Linked DNA regions of Homo sapiens: region 2 is linked to region 1. The links come from fine-mapping of genetic effects on gene expression. Tissue or cell type: whole blood. Region 1 holds a variant in brackets; the other region holds the start of a gene. All regions are shown on one strand. Distances are between the middles of the regions.

Region 1 (5,637 bases):
TGGGTTCACAAATCGCCACTTAGAAAGAGTTCCCTGATCAAAAATACCCATTTGGGGTTTTTAGAGTGAAACGTTAACTTCTACCATGTTTGTGCCATTGTCCATTTGGGGTTTTCTTTTTTTTATAGGAAATATCATTTTGTAAGCATTACGATACTCAAACATGTTTGTCTAGGTTGGCTGTGATAGTTACACTGGTCCAGATTATAAAAAGAGTCCAACTTTAACTTTATTTTCTTCTTTCATATCGAACAAAAAGGGAAAGAGGAAAACTTAATTAATGAAAGATATTTTCTATCACAAAAGCGGATATAACCTGGGAACACAGAGGCTAAGAATATGGGCTGTGAACCTACACTCCCCAAGTTCAAATCTCACTTTCAACAATTGATTTAACCTCTCTGTCCTTCAGTTTCCTCTCTGTGCCTTATTATCTCCCAGTGGAAATAATGGTAATGTCTGTATGATTGGGTTGTTGGGAAATATAAATGAGTTATTTCATATAAAGTGACTAGACCTGGAACTTAATATGAGTGAGAGCTCAATAATTTTCAACTCTAATTATTATTTAATCTTTTGTTTAAAATTTGAGAGTTGGGTCGGGCGCAGTGCTCACATCTGTAATCCCAGCACTTTGGGAGGCCGAGGCAGGTGGATCACCTGAGGTCAGGAGTTTGAGACCAGCCTGACCAACATAGTGAAACCCTATCTCTACTAAAAATATAAAAATTAGCTGGGCATGGTGGCACACACCTGTAATCCCAGCTACTTGGGAGGCTGGAGCAGAAGAATTTCTTGAACCCGGAGGCAGAGGTTGCAGTGAGCTGAGATCGCGCCATTGCACTCCAGCCTGGGCGACAGAGTGAGACTCTGTCTTGAAAATAAATAATAAAATAAAATAAAATTAAATTAAATAAAATTAAAATTAAATTTGACAGTTAATCCTCTCCCTTGCAAAATATAACATGATGATGATGACAATAATGATGATGACAATGATGATGACTCTAACCCTAGAACTGAGATTTTAACATTTTTTTACTGCTTCCCTTCACAACAAATAATTATCATATTTAAAGGAATTAAGTTCCCAGATAAAGTATAACCTAGGTTAGATTTTTCATTATCATGTTTAATGGTCTATGGTCAATTACATTTTTCTGATAAGTACCATAAATCTGGAGAATAAGAAGGGAGCCAGACATTTGGGCTTATAGGGCAAATAGCTAAAAAGCTGAAGCTATTTAGGAACAATTTATTGGATGTTAAAAATCTGCTTGATATATGTATAAATTTCAAATATTATCAACGACATGAAAACTTAAGGTGCCAGAAATGATAAAAATAACCACTTGCAAAGCTCAAGTGATGACACAAGCATATACAGAGATTTTTTTTTTTTTTTTAATGAGGACAGGCTGAAGAAAGGAAGAAAAAAAAATTAGGAGACAGATTCCCTTTTTTTTTTTTTTTGAGACGGAGTCTCGCTGTCACCCAGGCCGGAGTAAGTGGCGCAATCTTGGCTCACTGCAATCTCTGCCTCCCAGGTTCAAGCGATTCTCCTGCCTCAGTCTCCCGAGCTGGGACTTCAGGCATTTGCCACCGCGCCCAGCTAATTTTTGTATTTTTAGTGGAGATGGGGTTTCTCCATGTTGGCCGGGCTGGTCTCGAACTCCTGACCTCAGGTGATTCGTCCGCCTCAGCCTCCCAAAGTGCTGGAATTACAGGCATGAGCCACCATGCCAAGCTGGTAGATTCCCTCTTCTAAAAGAAGTACATGTTGCTTTGCAATCAAACAGAAAGGCTTTTCATGTGGATTTGCTGCTAAGTTCTACCTCAGTACAGAAGATGAAACTGGGTCTACAGTGCAGAAGGTGAGAAATTAGTTTTTGATGAATGGACACAACCTGCGAACCAAAGGTATCGAGATGGAACTCAACACAGCCTCAACAGTAATCAGTTGTTTTGTGTTTCCCTGAGATGAAAACATGAAACAGGATCTGCATTTGATAGCACTATGAAATTAATAAGGTAAGTTTCATGCATGGTCCATG[CA/C]AAAAAAAAAAAAAAAGAAATTAATAAGGGAAGGATAAGCAAGTTGTCAAGGAAATACTGGATTTTCTACTGCCTTATGCTGATAGAGTCAGAGAAAATCTTATAGAGTTTTTTGTTAAAACTCAATCTGCTAATTTAGTCAGACTGACATGTTCCTCAATGCCAAGTAGGAGTCCTTTTTCCCTTTCTTCCCCTTAGTTTACGTTAGTAACAGTTAGCAAGTAACAGCTTCTAGGTTAGCATTGTCAGGATCAGAAAGAAAAAAAAAAAGGAGAAAAGCTTGATTTACTGAAATGAGAATTCTCTCAAATAAGGACCTAAATGGTTTTTCCAGAAAACCTTCCTAGACACATATTCTCTAACAGGTCCATGGGCTTAGGGGGCCTATAAACTCCCCAAGAGAACAAATAAAATTTGGCAATTATGTGCAATGTTTTGAAGAGTCTAAACTTTCATTAAACTCTCTAAGTGAGCTATTACTCCCAAGCTCCCCCAGAAATACTAAAACTGACTGTACTGGAGATAAAAAATTCTTTTGTTTAGCATCAAAGATATGCAGTGCAGTAGTTCAGAGTTCTAAAAGGAAACTTTCTTTCTGAAGATATCTCAGACCTCACTCACAGACCTGTGAGTGAAATATCAGTTCTAAGTCAATAACCAACTTTATTTATAAGTCAGAGTTCTTTAAATTACTGTATTGATCTCTGCTACCTTAAATCCTTTATGAAAAAAGGGGAGACATTTTAAAAAGTGGTTGACCTCTGTGGTTCCCTCCCTCTTGACAATGACTTTACTTCCCCCACTAACTTTACTATGCCAAATTGAGTTTTATATTCGATATGAGGGGAAAAAAGGATATAAAACTGTACCTATTACACACACTTTCATAAAACACCAAGATTGGAAAGGAACAGACCAAAATATTAATGGGGTTTATTGTTGGGCTGGGGGACTATGATTAATTTTTATAATTATTTATATTAAATTATGTTTTTTGGGGTTTTATGCATGAGTACACATTTCTTTTATAATCAGAAAATAAAATACTTTAGCAATGGCAGAGTCACTGGAGAAAATAAGCTTACAGATTTCCAAATAGGATAGAAGGCTAACAAAAAACTCAAATTCTAAAATAAAGAACAATCCAATTAAAAAAAACTATGGCACATTTTTAAAGCATTTTGAAATTTCTGTCTTTGTGTAAACAAACTTACAGTTTCAATGACGATAGTAGCTGAAAAAGTCTTCTCATTGATGGATTCTAGGGTACCTTCATTTCCTCTGTAGCCTCCATTTAAAACTAGAATTCTTTTTCCTATGATGGAAAAGAATATAAAAATTAATGTGAAGAAATATCTCCACTTTTCTTCTAACTTGTTACAGCAAAATGTACTACACTGAATAAACATAATAAAAAACAAAACCCTTTTTCTTAGAAGTTCTCAATCATTTAAGAAGTGTGTAGTATTTTAGTGCGGTGTATGGATACTTTCACTACTCGAACATTATAAGACTTCTCATTTTTCCCCCAATTATTTGTTAAAGGAATATGTATGTTTTACTTTTAGACTGCAAAGAATATAAGGTACTTGGAGAAAATGTTCAGAGTCCAGAAGTAATCAGAGACAATTTAGCTTACTTTGTCTCTTTGCAAAATTCATAAGATGGTTTGGCAGTTTTACAAAAATTTAAACTTATACCTAACATGTGACTGAGCCATTCTATGTATTTACCCAAGAAAAAAGAAACCAGATATCCACACAAAGCTTTGTACGTATATGTTCACAGCAGTTTTATTTTTAACAGCCAAAAGCTGTAAATAAGCCAAATGTCTATCAACAGATAACTGGATAAACAAACTGGTACAGTAGTCCCCCCTTATCCCAGGTTTTGGTTACTCTCAGTCAGCGTGGTCCAAAAATAGGTGTGTAAAGTACAATAAAATATTTTGAGAGAAAGAGACCACATTCACATAACTTTTATCATACTATATTATTATAATTGCTCTATTTTATTATTAGTTATTATTCTCAATCTTTTACTGTGCCTAATTCATAAGTTAAACTTTATTATAGATATGTATGTAGGAAAAAACATAGTATATATAGTGTTTGGTACTATCCATGGTTTCAGGCATTCACTGGTGGTCTTGGAAGGTATAGGTTAAGGGGGAATACTGCATATCCATACAATGACATACAGCAAGAAAAAAGAATGAACTACAGATACGTTCCACCACATAGGTGAATCCAAAATAATTACACTGAGTGAAAGTAGCCAGACCAGAAAACAGGACACATTTATATTTATAGAAACTTAATTTATATAAAATTCTAGAAAAATATGAACTGAACTATGACAGAAAGCATGTCAGCAGATGTCGAGGAAGACAGAGGATGCAGGAGCAGAAGGTAGGAGGGAGGGATTAGAGAGGGAAATGAGAGGATCTATTCATCAGCTAGATTGTAGTGATGGTTTTATGGAAGTAGGCACATGTTGAAACTTACCAAATTGTATACTTTACATATGTGTGATTTATTGTACATCAATTTTACCACAATAAAGCTAACATAAATTTTTCTAATCTGTAAAAAGAATTTTTACTTTAGGGGGAAAAAGAATAAAGAATATGATAATAAGAAGTTCCAGAGACTGATGTTATCACTACATTGGCAATGACACCCCCAGGAAGATTTTGAGTCAGAGGTAAACAACCTGGTCAAAGTAGTGTTTGTACTCAGATACGGATAAGTTTCCAAAAGGCAAAGACACCTAAGGGGAAAAAAAGCAAAATAACACAGACTTTCACTTGACTATCGCAGAGAGCTAAACAAATACATCACAGATTGAACATTCCTAATCTGAAAATTTGAAAAGCTCCAAAATGTAAAATCTTTTGAGTGCTGACATCATGCCACAAGTGGGAAATTCCACACCTGACCTCCTGTGACAGGCCACTGTCAAGATGCAATCAAAATTATTTAAAATATTGTATAAAATTACCTTCAGGCTATGTGTGTAAGGTGTATATAAAACATAAATGAGGATGAGTATGGTGGCTCAGGCCTGTAATTCCAGCCCTTTGGGAGGCTGAAGTGGGTGGATCACTTGAGGTCAAGAGTCTGAGACCAGCCTGGCCAACACAGTGAAGCCCCGTCTTTACTAAAAATACAAAAATTAGCCAGATGTGGTGATGCATGCCTGTAATCCCAGCTACTTGGGAGGCTAAGGCAGGAGAATTGCTTGACCTGGGAGATGGAGGTTGCAGTAAGTCAAGATCGTGCCGCCACACTCCAGCCTGGGTGACAGAGTGAAACTGTGTCTCAAAAATAAATAAATAAATAAAAATAAAATAAAACATAAATCAATTTTGTGTTAAGACATGGGTTCCAACCCTAAGATATCCAATTATGTATATGCAAATTCCAAAATCCAAAATTGGAAACTCTTCTGGTCCAGGCATTTCAGATGAGAGATTCTCAACCTATAACCATAAGCCTAATATAACAAATGCTATCCATATATGTCTACGTTTTGCTTCAGGAAAAAAAAAAAAAAGTATTCCAGGAAAGGAAAATCCAT
Region 2 (5,000 bases), 29 kb after region 1:
AGATTTTATAATGGTGAATACGTATCATTATGCATTTGTCAAAACCCATAGGATGTACAACACCAAGAGTGAACCCTAATGTAAACTATGGATTCTGGATGATACTGATGTGTCAATGTAGTTTCATCCATGGTAACAAATATAACACCTCGTTGCAGGATGTTGATGATGAGGGAGACTGGAGAGGGGAGCGGAGGTCCTAATAACCAAACCTATAACAGTCTATTGCTTTTGATCGAATCTTGATTTCAAGGAGCAGTTGGAGGACAACTGAGGAAGTGTGAATGTGTATTAGATGATAAAGAGGAACTTCTATTAATTGTGTTATGTTGATGACATATACTATGGTTATATAGAAAAGTATCCTGAAATTTTAGAGATGCCTATTTAAGTATTTAAAGGTGAAATATCCTGATATTGGTATTTACCTTAAAATATTTTTTAAAAAGTAAATACGGCAAAATTACTTAAAGTGTTAAGTCTGGGTGTTACAGACTGCATGTCTGCGTCCCCTCAAAGTTCATATATTGAACCCTAACCCCCAAGGGAATGGAATTAAAAGGTGGGCCTTTGGAGATGACTGGATTTAGATGAGGTCACAAGGGTAGAGCCTGCATGATGAACAGGGTGGGACCGTATCTCAAAAAAAAAAAGAGGAAGAGAAGTTTCTATTAGAGCTTGCTCTATCTGCTTTGTGAGGATAGAGGCAGTTTCGCAAACCAAGAAGAGGACCCTCACTAGAATCTGACCATGCCAGCACCTTGATCTTGAACTTCCCAGCCTCCAGAACTGTGAGAAATAAATTTCTGTCATTTAAACCACCCAGTCTACTGCACTTTATATGGCAGTCCAAGCAGACTAAGACATTAGATAATGCATATACAGGTATTCCTTAATAGAACTAAAGAGAGTAACTGTATCAATATTAGTATGAGTCCTACCTAAAATACCTCTTCCTTCACTTGCAGAAACACTGGATTAGATTATTCCAATTGCCTCAGTGTTCTTCCACCCTTACCCAATCCAGTCCAATCTCCGGAGAAAAATATGATCACATCACTAGCCTGCACAGCATTCAATCAACCACCTCTTTAATGGGGAAAAGTGTAAATTCCATAGTGTAGCCATATAAGGCTTTTCGAGATCTGCCCAGACTCCTTGAGCCACTCTATATATACTTCACTCATTTAAAACTCAGCGACAATCCTACAAGTAGGTGAAATTATTATTCCCTCTTTACAGATAAGTAAAGGGGAATATAAGTAAATAACTTGCCCAAGACCACACGGTTGGTAAGTGGCCCTGCTTGACTTTAAATTTTGACAGTCTGATATATCCATAAACCAGATAAATCCATAATTTTAACCACAATATTATTCTGTGCCCGGTACAGTGTAGGTGCTCAATAAATGCTTGCTAGATGAGTAGTGTGGAAGAGCTTAGCTCTCCTTTTTCACCTGATCCCAAAAGAGGAGTGAATCCTAACCACCCTGTTTCTCTTAAGAGTCAAGTCAAGTAAGAGCTGATGACTGTTACTGGCATTGCCCGGGCGTCTAGTATTGCAGTATCCCCGCCCCTGTGAGGGGTGCAAAACCTTTTCTGATTTCATTTCTTTGGTGGTGGGGATCGGACTGGGGAGGAATGAGGGGTCGCAGAACACAGGCTGCCCGCTGGGCCCGGGGGCTGCGGGGAGGGACGGCTCTCGTGCGCTGAGTAGTTGACTCGCCCACTGCAGACCTCAGAAGCCTCACGACCCGGACCCCGGGAGCCCCAGCCCCGCGCCCTCAGCCCCGCGTCCAGGACCTGATCCTGGATTGCCAGGGGCCCTCCTGGGAAGACGGGGCCACTCCGGGCCCACTCACCTCGTCCCGGCACTGCTTCTGGCACATCTGGCAATACCAGCGTAGCTTCTGCAGCCCCTTGGACTTGATCCTGTTGGCGATAGCCTTGGGAGTAAGAAAATCCGACTTCCCCATGGCGACCACGGCAGCGATCACTTTCTGGACCCCAGTACTCAGCCAGCCGGAAACGGAACCGGGCTGGCGGCGGTGGGCGGGACAAATCCCAGCTGAGAGGCGGAAGGAGGTGGGGCCTGGGAAGACTGGGTTGCAACGGTCGCGAGACTCCCCTCGCCGTAGCGCGAAGAAACGAGACTGAAGAAGAGAGCAAGGTGGGAGGGGCGCGCTGGGGAGCTTCGGCGCATGCGCGCTGAGGCCTGCCTGACCGACCTTCAGCAGGGCTGTGGCTACCATGTTCTCTCGCGCGGGTGTCGCTGGGCTGTCGGCCTGGACCTTGCAGCCGCAATGGTATGGCAGCTTGCGGGAAGATCGGCAGGACCGCAAGGGATGGAAGAGCTTGGGCACGGGGCAGGGAGGAGGAGATGGGCGCGGGGGCAGATGTGGGGTCGCAGGGCCTAGCTGGGCCCCTGGCCCGTCGGAGGCGCCGGGTAGCGGGGGCTGCAGGAAGCGGCTCTGAGGTCGGGCAAGGTGTGCGCAGGGCCGGGCTCCGGCGGAGCAAGGTCCCGCCCGGTTCCCTGAGGTCGGAGGGCCACCTGGGACCTCGGGACTGCGGCCTGAGTCCAAATTGACGTCTGGGCGGTCTTGAGTTCCCTCAGCTAATCAGCACTTCCTGAGCTTCCACTTCCACTGCAAGCCAGGCCCCCAGTCTCAGGGCCTGCAAGGTGACGGGAGCCTGAGCAATAGCCCAGGGGAAGGTTAAGTCGTGCTTTTTGTCCTTGACGCCCTTTGAAACCCTGTAGTGCTGGACAGAGTGACCCTTTAAGATTCGATCGAGTCAGAGAGCGCGGCCGTCGAGCACCTCCCGTGTTGCAGACGCTTTGCTGGGTGCTGCAACAGCAAAGGCGAACATCCTAGATGCCTCTGAGGGTGGTTTTGGTGCAGAAGGGACCGTACAGATCTGTCTGAGGGCGGGGAAGGGAAGGACACCTAGCACTACCTTGAAACCACTTGCTGAAACCGTAACCCTGCAAGGTCATGAAATTGCCCCCAGGTCCTGGGGGAGGAGTTCGGTGGGCTTTTAAGTGGCATTTGTTAACTGACATGCAACTAAAGGGTGCCACGAGCCTCGAGAATTTTAAACATTAGTTCCGGGTAGGGGGACCTGGGCTGGGGGAAGTGCATATTAGAAGGCCCGGGAATGGGCAGGTAAAAGTTGGTTTGTGGGTGGTGCTGTTCAGTTTTGAAGCTTGACGGAATCTGGAAGAATTCCAGACACGCTGCTAAGGGGATTCTAGGCTGTGTCGTAGCAATTCCCTGCTCTTAACAGTGTGGAGGATTTCTAAGGCGCTACAGTGCTAAACTAGATTTTCGTATCCTAATTTATATGAAGGGACCATAAAGCATTAGTTGAAATAAATAGGTTTTTCATTAAGCAAATAACTGATAGTAATATACGAGATTTTCAGAATGATATCTGATGTGAATTAGCCACATAAAATTTTTGGTGGCTTGGCCTTGGAAGTCAGATTTTTTTTTCTCTAATATGGAAAAAGAACATTCATGGGAATTAAAAGGTCACTGTAGTTGAATTCTCAGTTGTATAGATTGTCCCACTTGTTAACCACTCAGCAGACATTAGCTGAGTGCTTCCACTCCACCCGGTGGTACTTGGAAAGTGCCCAAATGTGATGGTGAGCAAATAGATAAGGTCTCAGTCAGTTTCCTGGGACAGTGCCTGGCATGCAGTGGTGCTCTGCGAACATCAGCTCTCCTGGCCTTACCTTCTTGCCACGCATTAATGTTATCTGTCAGTATTTTTACAACCTTAGTTTCTAAGTTGATCTTTAAAAAAGTGGAAATAGTTTCTGAAACAAAGACAATATTTTACAAAAAATTTTAGAAATATCTTTTTTTAAAGCACCTGTAAGATAATTTGAAGCTCTTTTAGTGAAGGATTGTTTTAAATAAGAGCTCTCAGTTCAAGACAACTACTGTTAGGAGCTTAAATCGGAACCACAATCAGCATATAAAGGTCCTAATCCTGACCTTAATCCCTTTGGAATATTGGTTTTATAAATCATCAATCAACAGTGTTCCACTATGAAAGCATATTCTGTCTTCTTCTTTTCATGTATTCCTTCACTGCTGGTGCTTAATGTCTTTCCTTCCTCTTCTGCCATTTCTCTTTCCATGAATTATAATTGCCTTTTGAATTCAGAAATTAAAACCACTCCACAGAATTAATTTGGAAGGGGAAGAAAAGACCTTTGTCTTAACGAACCATGAAGAGGCATATTTCCATGCTTCTGTCTTGATTACTGGAAGTTTTTTAAAGTACAATTTGTTATTTTAGTTTTTGTTTTCAGAGAGGCTACCATGCTAACATAAAAACATTAGGCTTACTTAAATTCACAGTGGTTATTTTAATAGTTGTTAGGGTATCGGCAAAATACTCTAACGTTTTGAAAATTAAACCTTTTTTTTAAAGCAGCATATAAGAAAATGGAAATTAAAAATTTGAGAGAAAGAATCCCGGATTTTACTGTCTTCAAATTTGGGAAAAACATTTCTATTTCTTAGAGTTCAGTAGTCTCTAAAATGGAACTGTTTTTTAATAACGTGTCAGTAGTCATAAACTACAGATACCGATAAGGAGATGGCATTTCAGGAGAGAAAAGACAAATTGTCATCTGAGACCATGAGGGCAGATATTTACTAATAAATGTAAAAAATGTGAGGCAGCAGAGTGTAGTACTGTATGAAGAGAGAGACTCTGTAGCCAGCCCTGAAGGGCTGCATTCAGACGGCAGGGATTGAATTCTGATTGCCACTTAGCAGCTCTGTGACCTTGGGCAGGTTACTCAGTGTCTGTCCCACCAGTTCCTCATCTGTCAAATATATGCAATAAAAGTGCACAATTCAGTGGGTTAGTGTGAGGATTAGAGTATTTGCAAAGCATGTAGGACAATGGGGGAAATGCTGATAGGGATCCAAATGCTGTATATCAGTAGAGAAATGAAGAGTTTTTAAGTACAGTTTCTA

What was found. PIP is the estimated chance that this variant, and not a neighbour inherited with it, causes the effect.
Region 2: it holds the start of KIN, and the variant in region 1 is fine-mapped to the expression of KIN in whole blood (INTERVAL, PIP above 0.99).

The regions. Positions count from the first base shown.
Region 1 is chr10:7,756,621-7,762,257 of GRCh38, forward strand. KIN (Kin17 DNA and RNA binding protein) reads right to left here. Exons shown (of 13, transcript NM_012311.4): 12 at 3,270-3,370. Among named protein-coding and RNA genes, the nearest start is that of KIN, 29 kb to the right of the region's middle. The variant CA/C (reference allele first, on the strand shown) is at 2,055.
Region 2 is chr10:7,785,958-7,790,957 of GRCh38, forward strand. It overlaps KIN (Kin17 DNA and RNA binding protein), which reads right to left and starts at 2,036. Exons shown (of 13, transcript NM_012311.4): 1 at 1,863-2,036. The coding sequence starts at 1,976. It overlaps ATP5F1C (ATP synthase F1 subunit gamma), which reads left to right and starts at 2,220. Exons shown (of 10, transcript NM_001001973.3): 1 at 2,220-2,306. The coding sequence starts at 2,251. RefSeq lists enhancers at 1,989-2,308, 2,761-3,304.